Regions from separate parts of the Homo sapiens genome. Here region 1 is linked to region 2. A link means that fine-mapping ties the variant in region 2 to the expression of a gene that starts in the linked region. Tissue or cell type: whole blood. Region 2 holds a variant in brackets; the other region holds the start of a gene. All regions are shown on one strand. Distances are between the middles of the regions. Region 1 holds the start of PLEKHO1 (pleckstrin homology domain containing O1). Region 2 overlaps LINC02988 (long intergenic non-protein coding RNA 2988).

Region 1 (4,386 bases), 30 kb after region 2:
CTCACCTCACTCCTAAGACTTTCCATCACCAACTTGCTAGTTTTGTGTAAACAGCTAGGTTTCAATACCCTTAAGAGGGATCTCTTTGGCTGTGGCACAGCTTAGTTCTTCCCTAGATGCCTCAGTAGATGTTCTTTTAGATGAGTACTTTGTCTCAGGGTGTGTGTGTGTATGTTTCAATACCATAAAAGGTTTTATTTACCTAAATATAATCTACTGAATAAGGATGTCTACTGCAGAAAGCAGAAGAGGTTAGAACTCAGGGAGGACTTCCCAGTTAGCCCTGGGTGAGGGAACACAGAATACCTCCCGTGAGGGCGGGAGGAAGGGCCACTCTAACCGGTACACAGGACAGTCTTCCAGGCTATACTGACTGCCTTTGGACAGTCACAGAGGCAGGGAATGGAATGACTTCTAACCACTGTAGGGGCAATTCTGATTTCTCCACATTAGTACACGTTATTGATCCCAAGACTTAGGGAAAAAAGGGAGATGGGTCTGGATTCAATTATCATAGCTCAGGTCTTGACACAGTGTAGACTGTGGTTTTCATGGTTAACTACACAGCCAAAGCTATCCAAAGACATACAGGGGTTCTTAACTCCATTTCTCTCCCTTCTGATACAAATGGAGGGGTGGGCAGGAAGTGGGTAGAAAATGGGTTCCTTGCCTTTTTTAAATGGGGTGGGGGTGGGGAACAGAGAGCATACTGGTTAGGGACACTGGCTTCAACGAAAATAACTGCCACTCACACACCCGAGGTCACAGGGGCCTGACGGCGGGGTGCGTGTTTTCTGTGATTCAGGGCGGATGCGCCACGGACAGGACCTGTGCACGCTCCTGCCACAGACAGGAAAGGGGAGGCTGGCTGGGTTAAGGTGGGGGGACAGGAAGGGGTGGCGAATAGGCTAAACTGTTTCAGCAGAAATAGAAAAGAAATCCTATATGCAGGAGGCCAGGTTAGGGTGGGAGGCAGCAAGGGACACTTAGAACTTCTGGGGCATCTTGGGAGGGGCTTATCGTTGTTAGAAAGGTATTTGCAAACAAAAAAACACTGAGTAAGCGGCCAACTCAACTTCTAATTCTCACTCTGGTCTTCTCATTAAAGGGTGGCCTTTCTCTGCAGATGAGATGGGGGTAGAGAGGAGACCACTGAACTTGCCTTTGGAACAAAACGGGGGTGGAGTAAGCTAGGCGAGCCCTTGGGGAGTGACAAAGTGGGGGCTATGAGAAAACGGAGAGTTAGAGGCAAGAGGCACCCACCTCCTTCTCAGAGATGTAGAGCTGGTCCCCTTTCAGCACCACATAGCGGTTTTTCCAAATCTCCCTGAAAATCCCTTTCCCGCAGAATTTCCGGACCCAGCCGACCTTCTCGGGCGGTGCAGGCTGCTGGTTTCCATCCTGAGGTCCCTGCCCCAGGACAAGATGAGAAGCGGGCGGTTAGGAGATTCCAGCCGGCGCTTCCTCTCCGTCCGTCTCTCACGACCGCCTCGGCGGCCCAGTCTCCTCCGAAGGCTGCGGCCGGGGGGCGGGGGGCCGCCCCAGGTTCGCTCCCACTTCGGAAAGGTTTTCACTCCGAGGAACTCCCCCCGCTCCCCTCCCCCGCTCCCGAATAAACAACCGGGGCTGCAAGTGGCAGGGGCGCCGGCCGGGCGCGGAGAGGCTCCCAGGTTCCCTCCAGGCCCTGCGCCCCCGCCGCCCCGTCCTCGCCGCGCGGGGACTAACGGCGTTTCTCTGGTTTTCTCTCCCATTGTCTCCTCGCCACGGCGGAGCGCGAGGCAAACGCTCGCCCGGCGCCCGGGGGCGGGGGAGGTGCGGGTCGTGGGGAAACTCAGCCAAGTTGAAGCCCCCCGAGGCGAGTAAACAAACAAAAGCCCCCGCGGGCGCCTGGCGGGGCCGAGGCCGAGGGGACCGGGCCGCCGGGGCGGGGGCGCGGCCGGGCCGTGGGTCTCCCAGGCCGCCGCGGCGCCGACGGAGCGGGGGTCGTCAGAGCGCGGAGGCGGCGGCGGCCGCAGGGCGGGCAAGCGCACTCACCCGCTTGGCGGAATTGTTCTTCTTCATCATTCCCAGCGGGCGCGGGCGCGGGGCGGCGAGCCGAGGGGCGGCCCCGCGTCGGGGCCTCGGCGGCACCGCGGGGGCTCCTTCCCCGCGGGAGGGCGTCGGAGCTGCCCCGGCGCCGCCGCTCCTCCCTCGCGCCCTCCCGCTCCCGGACTCTCCCCTTCTTTGTAGCTCCGGTTTCACTCAAGGCCGGCCTCCCTCGCATTCGCACTCGCACACACACGCACGCCCGCTCCCCGCCCCTTGGCGCCCTCCATCCCGGCGCCCACGCGGCCCGGGTCCCCGAGCGCACCCCCGCCACCCGCCCGCCCGGCCCAGCGCGGCCGCTCCCCCGGCCCGGTGCGCTGTGGGCGGCCCAGTCCGCACCCCGCAGCTCCATCCGCGGGCCGCTGACGTTGCGAGTTCAGAATAAAGGGCGAATCGCGGAGCCGCAGCTCGGGCGCTCCCCCCGCCCCCCCGCCTTTGTTTCTGACTCACGGAGGGGGAAGAAGGCGGCTTCGAAGCGGCTGGAGACCGCTCCCCAGGGGGCAGGGACCCTCGCTCCGGCGGCGGCTCGGGCGACACGCGGAGCCCGAGAGACCCGGCCGCCGGCCGCCCCGGGGCCCAGTGGGCGGGCGCGGTGGATAATGGAGAGACGTGCGGATTCGTGAAGACTGGAGATCGCCAGCCTCTACAGCATCGCCTTACCCGACCAAAAACAAAAACGAGAGCGGGAACCGGGAGGGCGCGCCACCCACAACCCGCATCAGGAATTCACGCTCCTAGGTGCTAGGGTGGCCTGGGCAGGTCAGATGCTGGGGGAAAGTTTTATGCTCCGGAGGGGATCGACGTGTTGGGGGATGGGGTGGGACAGAAGTTGCTATTAATACACGTTTCTTCCAGCGTACAATGCCTCAGGCCTTATTGTAGCTTCAGGAGAATAATCCTAAGGATGAGGCGGATTTTATGATCTCCATCTCACAGGGAGAAAACGGAGACTCAGAATAGCTGAGGGATTTGCAGACACAGTGTCGATGCTGGCTTTTCAGACACAGTGTCAATGCTGGCAGGAATAGAACTCTGTCTCCAAACCATTATCCTTTCTACCAAGTGGCTTTCAATATAAGTTCCAGGTGAGGCTTAAACTTCCTGCCACCTGGGTATCTTTTCCCGCTATACTGATAGGTAAAAACCCCACCCTCTCTACAGCGCTGGAGCCCAGTGGAGGGAAGGGCTGAACGCCCAGAGAATGCCCTGACTAGAGAAGCCTCTGCTGATCCCTCCTACAGCAGATCTGCCTCAGAGCCTCCAGGACACATCTTAGTAACTTCATGTCTTTTTAATATATATACGTGTGATGGAAAAGGGGAGTGAGAAACCCCGCGCTTGGGTACTGGTTTCATCACCACTCTGGGCTTTGGTCAAGTCACTGAATTTCTTTAGGCCCGCGTCCCTCCACGTATTAAGTGGTGAGGGATGAACTGCCATTTTTATCAACAAGGAAAGCTAGGGGAAGATATGAGATGACCTCTGAGAGTCCTTTGAAGATATGTGTTGTCTTCCAGGGCTAATTTTGAAATCATAATAAGCTAATAAACACATTGCCTGGCATATGGCAAGCATGCAGTAACCACAAAATGAATAAAAATCCCTGGCACTGAGGAGCAGGGAAAAGGAAAAATCATTTTTCCAGAGATGTCTCAAGATAAAAGTGTTGGCTAGATTTGTGGTTTGAATAGTGGAGGCTCTTTTGACTTTTTCTGGTGTCTGTCAAATGAAGGAGGGGCTCCCTCTCTTTTCCAGTTCCACCTTTCCTCCTAATCCAATGATATTCCTCTCAACTTCTTTCCATTCACCATACCAATTAATTCCACGATTTTAGACTGACACAGAACTTTATCCTTTCAAAATGCTCTTATATGTCATTTCTTTACACTTTTAATGCCACCTTGTAAGGTATATAGAGTATTAATATTTCCATTTGGAAAATGAGGAAACAGGGCATGCCAGATAAACTGACTTGCCCAAGTTTATACATCAAGTTACTGGCTAAATGGATTAGAATCCAGGCTTCCTGACTGCAGTCTCCTCTTCAGATTTTGTAACCCCCTCCCATGGGCATGAGTGTGCACACACCACGTTCCCCAAACCATCTTGTCCCCTTTCCACCGTCTCTATTTTCTAACCCCCTGTTTAAAGAGCGATGAAAAAATAATGAGCAAATCCAGGGTGTCTTCATATGTGAGGATGCAAAATGTCCAAATGTACTGGTGAGCAAATAGCCTGCACGATTTTTTGAGGGCTTGCTGGACAAACACACAGGAGTGGTTTAGAGTTATCATTTAAATA
Region 2 (4,386 bases):
ATTCCCAGGGTTGAGGACTGAGTTTTTTTTTTTTTAATTAGTACTGGTTTCTATGGGATGCAAACTTTTCTCTAATAGCTGAAAGCAGAGGCTTCTGGGTGCTTTCAAATTTATTCTTTCTTCACGGTTTTAAAAGAGGCCCTTGCCTCTTCTGTGTGTCGTTATGCGTACTGGAGTGCAGAATAGAAAATGCAAAACAAGAGAGCCGTACAGGAGGTTTTTCTTTTTAAAGGAGTTGATAGACAAATGGCACAGAGTTCACTGTTCTCGCCAGCTGAGAGTTTAGCTTCCAGAAAGCACTACTTTAGGGAACAAGTGAAGCAGTGTGGAGGGCCTGAAAGGCTTCATTGACACAGCAGCCGGGAGGCTCTTGTAGCACATTGTCTGGGGTGCGGTGCCTTCGGAAACCAGCTCTCGAGATGTCTACACCCCCAACATCCCCAACGCTGAAAACATTCGGGTTTTTTTTTTTGGTTGTTTTTGCCATTATACTTGGTTTTCCAAGTGAGATTCCTGAAAAGGTATTTGCTTTTATTTGTTTTTGTTTATTAGTTTCCTCTGGGTGTCAGTCAGTTCTTCACATGGTCACTTGGCTTACTTGGTAGGAACGTGGGGGATCTGGGTGGTGGGGCCGAGGCAGTTTCCCCAACAAATCACTGGTACGGCATGAATGCGTTTGTTTTCTGAATGAGAATCTAAGTGCTGCCACAAAAAAGGCATGCTGGGGTAGAAGAAATAAGGTGAATTTGAAGCCGACAATTGAAATCATTATTGATAGTTTCCTAGTTTTCCTGAAGGTTGATCTGGAGAGATGGAAGTCTAAGCTAAGGAATAATAGATCTGTATCAGTGAAGTTGTAGAGTCACTTGTAGGCTCTGAGGGTCTGTCCCAGGGAAGATACAATGATCCATGGTGTGTTGGTTTGGTATAGAAATGCCAGGGCCAGGCAAGCTCTTCATCCGTGGTTTTTATTCAGGTATTAATAGAGCTCCTAGTATGTGTCTGGCCTTGAGAAGGGATGTGGCTTGTGTTTCTGCACTTTGAGGAGTTTCGAGTCATAAACCCATAGACCACGGAAGATCCTTAGAGATCGGCAGTCCTCCTCTTACCCTGCAGGAAGCACCAAGGCCCAGAACATTGGCTTGCTCAAGGTTACACAGAGAGTTAGTGGCGGCCTCTTGAGAGGCCAGATCTTTTTTTTTTTTTTTTGAGACGGAGTCTTGCTCTGTCGCTCAGGCTGGAGTGCAATGGCCCGATCTCGGCTCACTGCAACCTCCGCCTCCCAGGTGCAGGCGATTCTCATGCCTCAGTCTCCCGAGCAGCTGGGATTACAGGCGCCCACCATGACGCTTGACTAATTTTTCTATTTTTAGTAGAGACAGGGTTTCACCATGTTGTCCAGGCTGGTCTCGAACTCTTGAGCTCAGGTGATCCGCCCGCCTCAGCCTCCCAAAGTACTGGGATTACATGCATGAGCCACCGCGCCTGGCCTGGAAGCCAGATCTTTTTACTCCCAGTTTGGTATTTTTCCATTCAACTACCGTTGAAAACGCCTCATAGTTGTTAGAGAACAGTTCCAGAGAATATATAATTCAGTGTTAAATTGAATAATCAACTGTTACTGCATAGGGGGAGAGTTCATTGTTCACTGGAACTATCTGGAAGTGTGACAGATTTTGAAGAATGGGAATGGTGTGGACATTCCAAAAGGACCAGAAACCTTGTCTCTGTTCTGTGTTGTTTGGGGATGTCCATGAAGAAATGTATAACCCTCAATCCAAGTGTGAAGCCTTTGCACATGCTGTGGGAGCAGGCGTGTTCAGGGAGTGCCCCTGCTGAGCATCCTGCAGACTGATAGGGAGAGAGACATATTGTGTAGAGACCACTTTCTCCCCAAGCAAAACCAAAGCAAGGTGGGGTGGAGGACCCAGGGTGGGAGGGGAAGTGGAGTCCAAGTGATTTACAGGTTTTCATTACACATTTGAGGATGAACCTAGGTCGCTAGAACTTTGACTCAATGACAGAAGGGGCCTTTGTGGAGGTCTTGATGTAAAAAACA[C/T]GAGTCACCTCTCAGAACTTCTGCATAGCTGCTAGAAGTTAGTTCTCAACCTTAAAGTTCCTTCTTTTTCTAGAGGATCGCTGAAAGCAAAAGTAACAATCTAAACCATCTGCCACTTAAATAAGAGGAGATTTATTGCTTTTAATAGAAAGGATGCTTGTTCCAACAGAAGGGTATGGCTCAGAGAAGCAAGCCTGGCTGGGCACGGTGGCTCACGCCTCTAATCCCAGGACTTTGGGAGGCGGAGGTGCGTGGATCACCTGAGGCCAGGAGTTCGAGACCAGCCTGACCAACATGGCGAAACCCCATCTCTACAAAAAAAGACAAAAAATAATTAGCCGGGTGTGATGGTACACCTGTATAGTTCCAGCTACCTGGGAGGCTGAGGTACGAGAATTGCTTGAACCTGGGAGGTGGAGGTTACAGTGAGCCGAGATCGCACCACTGCACTCCAGCCCGGGCAACAGAATGAGACTGTCTCAAAAAAAAAAAAGAGGCAGCTGCGGCTTCATCTCTTTGGCCTTCCTGAGCATATATTCTGGTCACTGCTCTGCCGTCAAGCTGTGGAGTAGGGGGGATCCCTAAAGAGCAAACAGCAGGTATGAGTGTTAGAGACCAGAGACAGCAATGCTGATTCAGCGCATAAAGTTCACCAATGTGCAGTGTGGCTGGAGTTTAGAGCATGGGGCAGCCCTGAGGTGTCTATAAGGGGAATGGAGAGGAAGGACAAGGCCAAAGAAAGAAGCGACTAGGATCACAGAGGCCCTGTAAACCGTGTTAAAGAAGGTGGACTCTAACTCAAGGGCAGTGGGGACTATAAATATCAGATTTAAAATTTTAATTTTTTTTTTTTTGATATGGAGTCTTGCTCTTGTTGCCCAGGCTGGAGTGCTATGGCATGATCTGGGTTCACTGCAACCTCTGCCTCCCAGGTTCAAGCAATTCTCCTGCTTCAGCCTCCCGAGTAGCTGGGATTACAGGTGCCTACCACCATGCCTGGCTAATTTTTTCTTTTTCTTTTTTTTTCCGTATTTTTAATAGAGACAGGGTTTCATCATGTTGGCCAGGCTGGTCTCAAACTCCTGACCTCAGGTGATATGCCCGCCTCGGCTTCCTAAAGTGTTGGGATTACAGGCGTGAGCCACTGCGCCAAGCCAGATTTAAAATTTTAGATCACTCTAATTGCAGTGTGGGCATAAGAAACAGTAGAGTTAGTGACACTAATTAGAAGACTGTTGCAGTCGTTGGAGAGAGAGGGGTTGATGGCCTGAAACTGTAGAGGCAAAACCATGAGTAGCAATGTTGGCACTCAGGGCAAACAACTCAAAATTGACCTTCAAACAGCTCTGTAATGCAGGATACAGCCAGGTGTGACTGGTAATATGCCTTTTGATAGTTTTCAATTTAACCAAATGGTCTGGATAACCAGGTGTTTTTTTTTTTTAAACAATTATGTTTTAAAGGAAACATGCCCCTTGAGATTATGGAATTCAGGAGCAAAGCACAGTCCACTCCTGTAGTTGGGCTGGGGCAGAGGCAGTGGGAAGGGGGTGGTAATCAGATTTGGGAGATACTTAGGAAGTAGGGTGGACAAGTAAAGCTTTTGGTAGAAAAACATGTTTAGTTAAAGTTGTTTTTGTTTTGTTTGAATTGAATTAGTAATATATGCCATGGTAAAATTCAAACAGCACTAAAGGAATACAATGAAAAGTGTCTCCTTAACCAGAGTCAGCCATTCTTAACAGTTCTTGTGTATTCTAGAGCTTTTTGTGCCACTGTAAGCCTATGTTTAATATTTATTTTTTATAAAAATTGGAACATACTATACACCTTGCTCTTCCCTTTACTAATTCACTTAACATTATATTTTGGCAGTCTTGCTATATCTATTTTTGGTTTGTTTCTAAAGAGACAGGGCCTTGGTCTATTGCTCAGGCTGGATTGCAGTGGTGCAATCATAGCTCACTGTAACCCCAGACTTCCTCCTGCTCCTGCCTCCAAGTAGCTATAACTACAGGAGTGTGCCACCATGCCCATCTAATTTTTAAATTTTTTATAGAGATGGGCTCTCCCTATGTTGCCCAGGCTGGTCTCAAACCCTGGCCTCAAGTGATCCTCCTGCATTGGCCTCCCAGAGCACTGGGATTACAGGTGTGAGCCACCATGTCCTGTCTACTTTGTTCTTTTAATAGTCCATTGTTTGAATGTGTGCTCTCATTATTTATTTAAACTAGTCTCCTTTTTTTTTTTTTTTTTTTTGAGACAGGGTCTCGCTGTATTTCTCAGGCTGGAGTGCAGTGGCGTGATCTCGGCTCACTGCAACCTCT

What was found.
Region 1: PLEKHO1 starts here. The variant in region 2 is fine-mapped to the expression of PLEKHO1 in whole blood (TOPMed, PIP above 0.99).

Annotation. Positions count from the first base shown.
Region 1 is chr1:150,147,936-150,152,321 of GRCh38, reverse strand. PLEKHO1 (pleckstrin homology domain containing O1) reads right to left here and starts at 2,406. Exons shown (of 6, transcript NM_016274.6): 1 at 2,035-2,406; 2 at 1,264-1,410. The coding sequence starts at 2,064. RefSeq lists silencers at 2,099-2,178, 2,319-2,778 and an enhancer at 1,966-2,466.
Region 2 is chr1:150,178,377-150,182,762 of GRCh38, reverse strand. It overlaps LINC02988 (long intergenic non-protein coding RNA 2988), which reads right to left. Exons shown (of 4, transcript NR_135098.1): 4 at 1,535-1,851. Among named protein-coding and RNA genes, the nearest start is that of LINC02988, 20 kb to the right of the region's middle. The variant C/T (reference allele first, on the strand shown) is at 2,060.